2 linked regions of the Homo sapiens genome follow. The protein of the gene in region 1 purifies or fractionates together with the protein of each later gene. This does not show direct contact. Each region holds a gene or a part of one and is shown on either strand. Other genes may lie near its edges.

What was found.
Region 2: the proteins of FGR (region 1) and CAD purify together in Homo sapiens (affinity purification with mass spectrometry; one large-scale study listed by BioGRID and IntAct). This does not show direct contact.

Annotation. Positions count from the first base shown.
Region 1 is NC_000001.11:27,628,686-27,632,185, reverse strand, and holds part of FGR (tyrosine-protein kinase Fgr), read left to right. Parts: intron 1-3,500. UniProt on the Homo sapiens protein: Non-receptor tyrosine-protein kinase that transmits signals from cell surface receptors devoid of kinase activity and contributes to the regulation of immune responses, including neutrophil, monocyte, macrophage and mast cell functions, cytoskeleton remodeling in response to extracellular stimuli, phagocytosis, cell adhesion and migration.
Region 2 is NC_000002.12:27,237,869-27,241,368, forward strand, and holds part of CAD (multifunctional protein CAD), read left to right. Parts: coding exon 1-14; intron 15-187; coding exon 188-319; intron 320-562; coding exon 563-764; intron 765-1,173; coding exon 1,174-1,364; intron 1,365-1,462; coding exon 1,463-1,603; intron 1,604-1,828; coding exon 1,829-1,930; intron 1,931-2,396; coding exon 2,397-2,493; intron 2,494-2,698; coding exon of another isoform or gene 2,699-2,749; intron 2,750-3,042; coding exon 3,043-3,087; intron 3,088-3,189; coding exon 3,190-3,359; intron 3,360-3,453; coding exon 3,454-3,500. UniProt on the Homo sapiens protein: Multifunctional protein that encodes the first 3 enzymatic activities of the de novo pyrimidine pathway: carbamoylphosphate synthetase (CPSase; EC 6.3.5.5), aspartate transcarbamylase (ATCase; EC 2.1.3.2) and dihydroorotase (DHOase; EC 3.5.2.3).

The sequences.
Region 1 (3,500 bases):
CAGCCTTGGCGACAGAATGAGACACTGTTTCAAAAAAAAAAAAAAGAAGAAGAAGAAGAAGAAGAACAAAGAAAGAAAGAAAGGGAGTTAATGAGCAGTGGGGGCCTCAGCAAAGGCACTGGCATTCAGCCAGGTGGAGGGTCTCGGTGAGAGGACTGAGGGTGAGGGATGGAAGCCCGCCCGGTCTGAGGGATAGGGCCTAGTGAGAGATGCGGCACAGTGGGATGGGAGTCACCTGCAGACCTCAGCCTTGCTCCCTGACCCTCCAGCCCTGGCCTGCCCCCGGCCAGCCCAGAGCCTGGAGGAGAAGCCGGAACTCTTGCAGGATGGTGGTTTCCTGCCCCTGCCCAAAGTCCCGGTTCCCTTTTGATGAAATCCCCCAGGCGGCTGGGCCAGCTCAGCCCTCTCACCTCACCCTGGGAACTTCTCTTTCTTCTCAGCCCTGCCCAGTTCTGTACCCTCTGGTCCCACACCGTCACTGCCACGGAGGACCTTCCTCAAGGGAAAGGAGGGAAGTGAAAGTTCACTGGGCACTTACTGTATGTCTGATGCTTTCAGTGATGTGACCCCATTTGATGCTGAGAAGCAACCCCAGGAGGTGGACATTTGTATTCTTATTTTATAGGCAAAGATGCTGCCGCTCAGGGAGATGAACTGACTTGCCCAATGCCTTAAGCTAGTTGTCAGGCAGGCTAGAATTTGAGCCTAAATCTGCCTCTAGATCCCACAGATACTTGGTGAGGGTTGCGGGGGCAGGACATCCTGTGTCTACATCAAAGAACTGGCATAGCTTTGGGAAGTGTGGGCCTCGAAAAAGGATGGGTGGACCTGGGGTTCCTATGTCCAGCAGTAGGGGTGAGTGGGAGGCAGGGTCCCTCCCTGCTGGGTGACCAGCTGCCATATGACAGGGGTGGTGTGTTCGACCGGAAGTATGACATTCACTAGTTAGGAACAGCATGATCTCCTGCTCAGGCTTTGGAGAACACAGCAGTGGGGGAGGGAACAGAACTCTGGACTTGAATTAATAGTCCTGACTTTGAATCCCTTGTCTGGCTGTGTGATCCTGGGAAAGTAACTTCCCCCTATGCAAAAGAGAAGGTGGAGTGGTAAATGGTCCCTGGGGGCCATTCTGGTTTTGGTTATTGGTCACACTTGGCCACTGCACATCGGGCAAGAGCCACATGTCATGAAGCCCTCACAACAACTACTCAGAAGGTGCAGATGCAACAACTAAGGCTCAGAGGCTTATGTCAAAGATCCAAGGTCATAGAGCTACTGAAGAATGGAGCTGGGGAGGGCCACAGGGCAGATGTTGAAGTGAGGAGCACTGCGGTCCAGGGTTGGACCTCAGTTTGATACTTGTAACCTGATTTTGACCCTGATGGGGATCTCGGAGGCGACTCCTGTAAACCAGATGTTCAAGAGACATATTTATAAACAGAACCAAGTGCCCAGAATGATGCTGTGGCTACTCTCTGAGCTGCCCCCTTTCTGGTATTAGCAGGCAGCGAAGTTCAGTGCTGAGAAAAGAGAGACCTGGCTTCTTCAGATTCAGCGACTGCCTGAGAAAATCTGGGCAGATATGGCTCTCTCTCTCTCTCTCCTGCGCCCCTCCCTCCCCCCACCTGCGCCCTGCCTGCTGTATCAAGGATTTAGAGCATGAGGCACAGGGCTGAGAACACTAGGTGCTCCTTAAGAGACACACGTTATTGCAGGGGTGTCCAATCTTTTGGCTTCCCTGGGCCGCATTGGAAGAAGAAAAATTGTCTTGAGCCACACATAAAATACACTAACACTAATGATAGCTGATGAGCTTTAAAAAATTGCAAAAAAGGCCGGGTGCAGTGGCTCATGCCTGTAATCCCAGCACTTTGGGAGGCCGAGGCGGGCAGATCACGAGGTCAGGAGATCGAGACCATCCGGGCTAACACGGTGAAACCCCGTCTCTACTCAAAATACAAAAAATTAGCCAGGCGTGTTGGCAGCGCGCCTGTAGTCCCAGCTACTCAGGAGGCTGAGGCAGAAGAATCACTTGAACCCAGGAGGCGGAGGTTGCAGTGAGCCAAGATTGTGCCACTTTACTCCAGCCTGGGCAACAGAGTGAGACCCCGTCTCAAAAAAAATCACAAAAAAAATCTCATAATGTTTTCAGAAAGTTTACTAATATGTGTTGGGCCACATTCAAAGCTGTCCTGGGCTGCATATGGCCCATGGACCATGGGATGGACAAGCTTGCATTATTGCTTCTACTAGGATTACAGAATGGACTAGTGGTTACAGTGGTTTTTGGCAACAAGTTGATCAGCATTGCATTTTAGCATCCTTTACTCACAATGTAATCTTGGGCAAGTTACTTAACATCTCTGTGCCTCAGTTTCTTCATCTGTAAAATAAGGGTAGTCATAAACCCACCTCATAGGTTCACCAAATAAGACCATGACTGGGAGTTACTTGGCAAGATGCTAGTCACTGTGTAACTGTTTAATAAATTAGCTCATTTTTACTGCCACCTGGATTTCTAGGAAGTCAAATTACTCTCCAAAGAATTGGTGGCACATAGAGATCAGAGCAAGAGGAGGATGAAGAGTCCTAGGGCTATTTTCATGCAGATGTCTGAGCAGAGTGAACCCAATCTGCTCTCCCTCCGTCTTTTTCCCTCCTTGTCTCTTTAGCTCTCTCTCTCTCTTTCTCTTCATCTCTGCCTCTCTCTGTTTCTATCTCTTTCTGTCTCTTGATTACTCTTTCTCCTTAATTCTCATTTCTGCCTCTGTCTCTTTGTCTCTGTTTCTTTCTGGCAGTGTGTGCTGGAGCCAGCTACTTACTGGCTCAGGGGAGTTCATTCTGTGTGTCTCTTCCACCCCAGCTTTCAGGAAGTCACTTTGGTAGCTTTAAATCAGCCATTGTGGGAATATTTACACCATGGAAATCAGAAAATGTGACAAATCAGGGCTTTTTCTTTTCTTTTCTTTTCTTTTTTTGAGAGTCAGTTTACCAGCATACCACGCTGTGTTTCTCTGTCTCTGTCTCTTCCTTCTATCTCTCTGTCTTTCTGTCTCTCTGGCTCTTTCTCTTTATCTCCCTGTATCTCTCAAACTCTGCCTCTCTCTCTCTTTCTTTCTGCCTCTCCTTTTTCTGTCTTTCCCCATCTCTTTCTTTCCTCTGACAAAACAGCATGAACATGGCTACATGCAGTGTGGCCCCTCCCTGCCTTGGGCCATGCAGATGTCATACCCTGTGCCCTACATCCCCTGACGCCTCAGCATACTGGTCCCCAGAGAGCCAGGCCTGGCCAGGGCTTTGGTCTGCATCAAGTTTGGAAGTGATAAGACCCAAGAGCTGCCTACCTCTGCCTGCTGACGACACGGTCAGTCCTGCCAGGGCTCTTCCTGAGCCCACAGAGCTTCCTTCTCAGATGCTGATAGTCTCTCCCTTCCAGCCATACTGGGCATGCAGAATTCAGGGATCCCCTCCATCTGATATAGATATGTTGTGGCAATATA
Region 2 (3,500 bases), on another chromosome or scaffold:
TCCAGTGGATGGAGGTAGGGAGTGTGCATGTGGCAGGAGGCCACCACCCAGTGTCTCCTGGCTTGTGGGCCCCTGCCTAAGTGGGCTGGTAGCAGTGAGGATTCAGGGGAGCTCCTGGGGACTCTGGGCTCTGATGAGCACAGTCAGAGATTCTGCACACTCCTTCATCAGTTCTTTCTGCTCCCAGCATTTCGAGACATGGCCCTCCCACCTCCCCATTGTGGCTCACGCAGAGCAGCAAACCGTGGCTGCTGTCCTCATGGTGGCTCAGCTCACTCAGCGCTCAGTGCACATATGTCACGTGGCACGGAAGGAGGAGGTAAGAGTACACCTGAGATCCTGCTGTCCCTGTTGCTTTCCCAGTAACACCAAAGGTCAGGGTAGTCCTTAGGGGCAGGAGACAGCAGGAGGAGAGTCTGGAGACAGCAGGAGGAGGGTCTCGAGCCAGCACCCTTGCAGGTCTACATCATCATTTTTTGAGCAGGGATGTTGGCCATTGGGACTTTGTGTAGGGCAAGGCATATGGGTGGTGCCTCTTCTGGATCTTCCCATTGTTCCCCAGATCCTGCTAATTAAAGCTGCAAAGGCACGGGGCTTGCCAGTGACCTGCGAGGTGGCTCCCCACCACCTGTTCCTAAGCCATGATGACCTGGAGCGCCTGGGGCCTGGGAAGGGGGAGGTCCGGCCTGAGCTTGGCTCCCGCCAGGATGTGGAAGCCCTGTGGGAGAACATGGCTGTCATCGACTGCTTTGCCTCAGACCATGGTGAGAGAATCCAGCATGTACCTCCTCTGCCCAGTGGGGCTTGTGGGACAGCCCTAGCAAGAAAATGGGAAGCAGGCCAGGCCTCAGGACTCTACTAGGACAGGGTCTTGATCCGTATGGGACCCTAGCCTCTAGGGTACCTGGTCTGTGATAGGTGCCTGATAAATACTTGTTGAAAGAATGAATGAGCCAGTGAGTAGAACTGCAAGTGAAAGAATACATGGGTAAAAGTGTGGGCTCCAGAAGATGGCAGCAGTCCTGTTGCCCTTGTTTCTAGTTCCCAGAAAAAATGAGCATTGGGAGTGGTAGTGAGCATAAGGAGGTTGTTGGAAGTGCAGTCCTGGGGTGTGAGTGACTTCCTAGACATGGAGGTGATTGGTCCTGAGGGTAATGGCTTTCTTTCTCCCAGCTCCCCATACCTTGGAGGAGAAGTGTGGGTCCAGGCCCCCACCTGGGTTCCCAGGGTTAGAGACCATGCTGCCACTACTCCTGACGGCTGTAAGCGAGGGCCGGCTCAGCCTGGACGACCTGCTGCAGCGATTGCACCACAATCCTCGGCGCATCTTTCACCTGCCCCCGCAGGAGGACACCTATGTGGAGGTGTGGGGATGAGGCCCAGAGCAGGAGGGGGGCTCTCCAGCCCTAGGATATGTTCTCTGGGGATCCTTTCCCTAGCATAACCCATGTCCTCTGGGCAGGTGGATCTGGAGCATGAGTGGACAATTCCCAGCCACATGCCCTTCTCCAAGGCCCACTGGACACCTTTTGAAGGGCAGAAAGTGAAGGGCACCGTCCGCCGTGTGGTCCTGCGAGGGGAGGTTGCCTATATCGATGGGCAGGTACGCAAGTAGCCCCTGCCTGATCTCAGTAGTGCCCTCTTCTGCACCACGTTCATTTCTTCCCTTCCCAGCACATCTACACTGTCCCACTATGTGCACCACTGCCCTGGACCAGGGGTTGGGGGCACAGCTCCCCCAAGGTGCTTTTTGTCCTTGCTGACATCTACCCCTTTAGGACCTGAGTTCTCTCTGCTCCCTCCTGAGTGCCCTGCCTTCTGCCTGCAGGTTCTGGTACCCCCGGGCTATGGACAGGATGTACGGAAGTGGCCACAGGGGGCTGTTCCTCAGCTCCCACCCTCAGCCCCTGCCACTAGTGAGATGACCACGGTATCCACACTACTGGGCTAGGGGGCTGGGAGGTGTTAGTCTCAGGGCAGGATGAACAGCTTGAACATTTTCATTGGTGGTTCAGGAACAATTGGGGTTTTCTTGAGGGACTGAATTTGAAGTGGGGTTGGGTCAATTATTTTTTTAAAATGCTGGGCCAGGCCAGATGTGGTGGCTCACACTTGTAATCCCAGCACTTTGGGAGGCCAAGGCAGGCGGATCATCTGAGGTCAGGAGTTTAAGACCAGCCTAGCCAACATGGTGAAACCCCATCTCTACTAAAAATAAAAAAATTAGCCAGGCGTGGTGGTGCACATCTGTAATCCCAGCTACTTGGGAGGCTGAGGCAGGAGAATTGCTTGAACCCAGAAGGTCACGCCACTGCACTCCAGCCTGAGCGACAGAACGAGACTCCGTCTCAAAAGAAAAAAAAAAAAACAACTCTGGGCCAACGTTATCCCTCCAGACACCTGAAAGACCCCGCCGTGGCATCCCAGGGCTTCCTGATGGCCGCTTCCATCTGCCGCCCCGAATCCATCGAGCCTCCGACCCAGGTTTGCCAGGTAAGAGTGGGGTTCCTGTGACTCAGAGACTGTGTAGGGACAGGATCCACTTCTTCCCAGTGCCTCGCCTTTCTCTACTTACATGTCCTCCTCTCCATCCCTTTATCCTCGTCTGATCTGCCGTGCCATCCTTTGCCTAAACAAGTCTCCCCGGTGTGAGTAGACATCTCACAGCTTCTCACATGCCCTTTTTTGTTGTGGGCAGCTGTGTTCCTCCGCCCAGGAGCTGGGATCCCACGGGGCAGCAGAGCGTGGGGTAAATCCAGGTTGTTGGTTGGTGTGAGTCTGGCCGTTCCTCTTGCCTAGGATGCCTTTGCCAACTGGGAGAGCCCCGGGAGGGCACCACTGCTCCCATACAACACAGCCCCATGGGAAGCCACCTGTCTGTCCCCAGAGCTGCTGCAGTCCCCTGCCCTCCCCTAACCTGCTATATTACTGTGTTGTGAATTGGTTTAACATATACACTGTGATTCAGAGTTCCTGGGAATATGGGGTTTCTTTCCAAACCTCAGCCATAAATGTATATCTGTCCTCTTGTCCTGTTTGCAGCTGAGGAGCCAAAGGAGAAGTCCTCTCGGAAGGTAGCCGAGCCAGGTGAGACTCCACCCTGACACACACTCACCTCGGGGACCTCTGATCTGGCCTTGGTAGGAGGAACCCTCTGACCAGCCTTTTCTGCCCCATCCCTCACTGCAGAGCTGATGGGAACCCCTGATGGCACCTGCTACCCTCCACCACCAGTACCGAGACAGGCATCTCCCCAGAACCTGGGGACCCCTGGCTTGCTGCACCCCCAGACCTCACCCCTGCTGCACTCATTAGTGGGCCAACATATCCTGTCCGTCCAGCAGTTCACCAAGGATCAGGTGCCTGGGGCAGGGAGGATGGGACCACCCAGAGCTTTGAGGATTTGGAAAGCTGGGGCTAGGACCTTTCTAGCTAACTTGGGCTCTTTCTTAGATGTCTCACCTGTTCAATGTGGCACACACACTGCGTATGATGGTGCA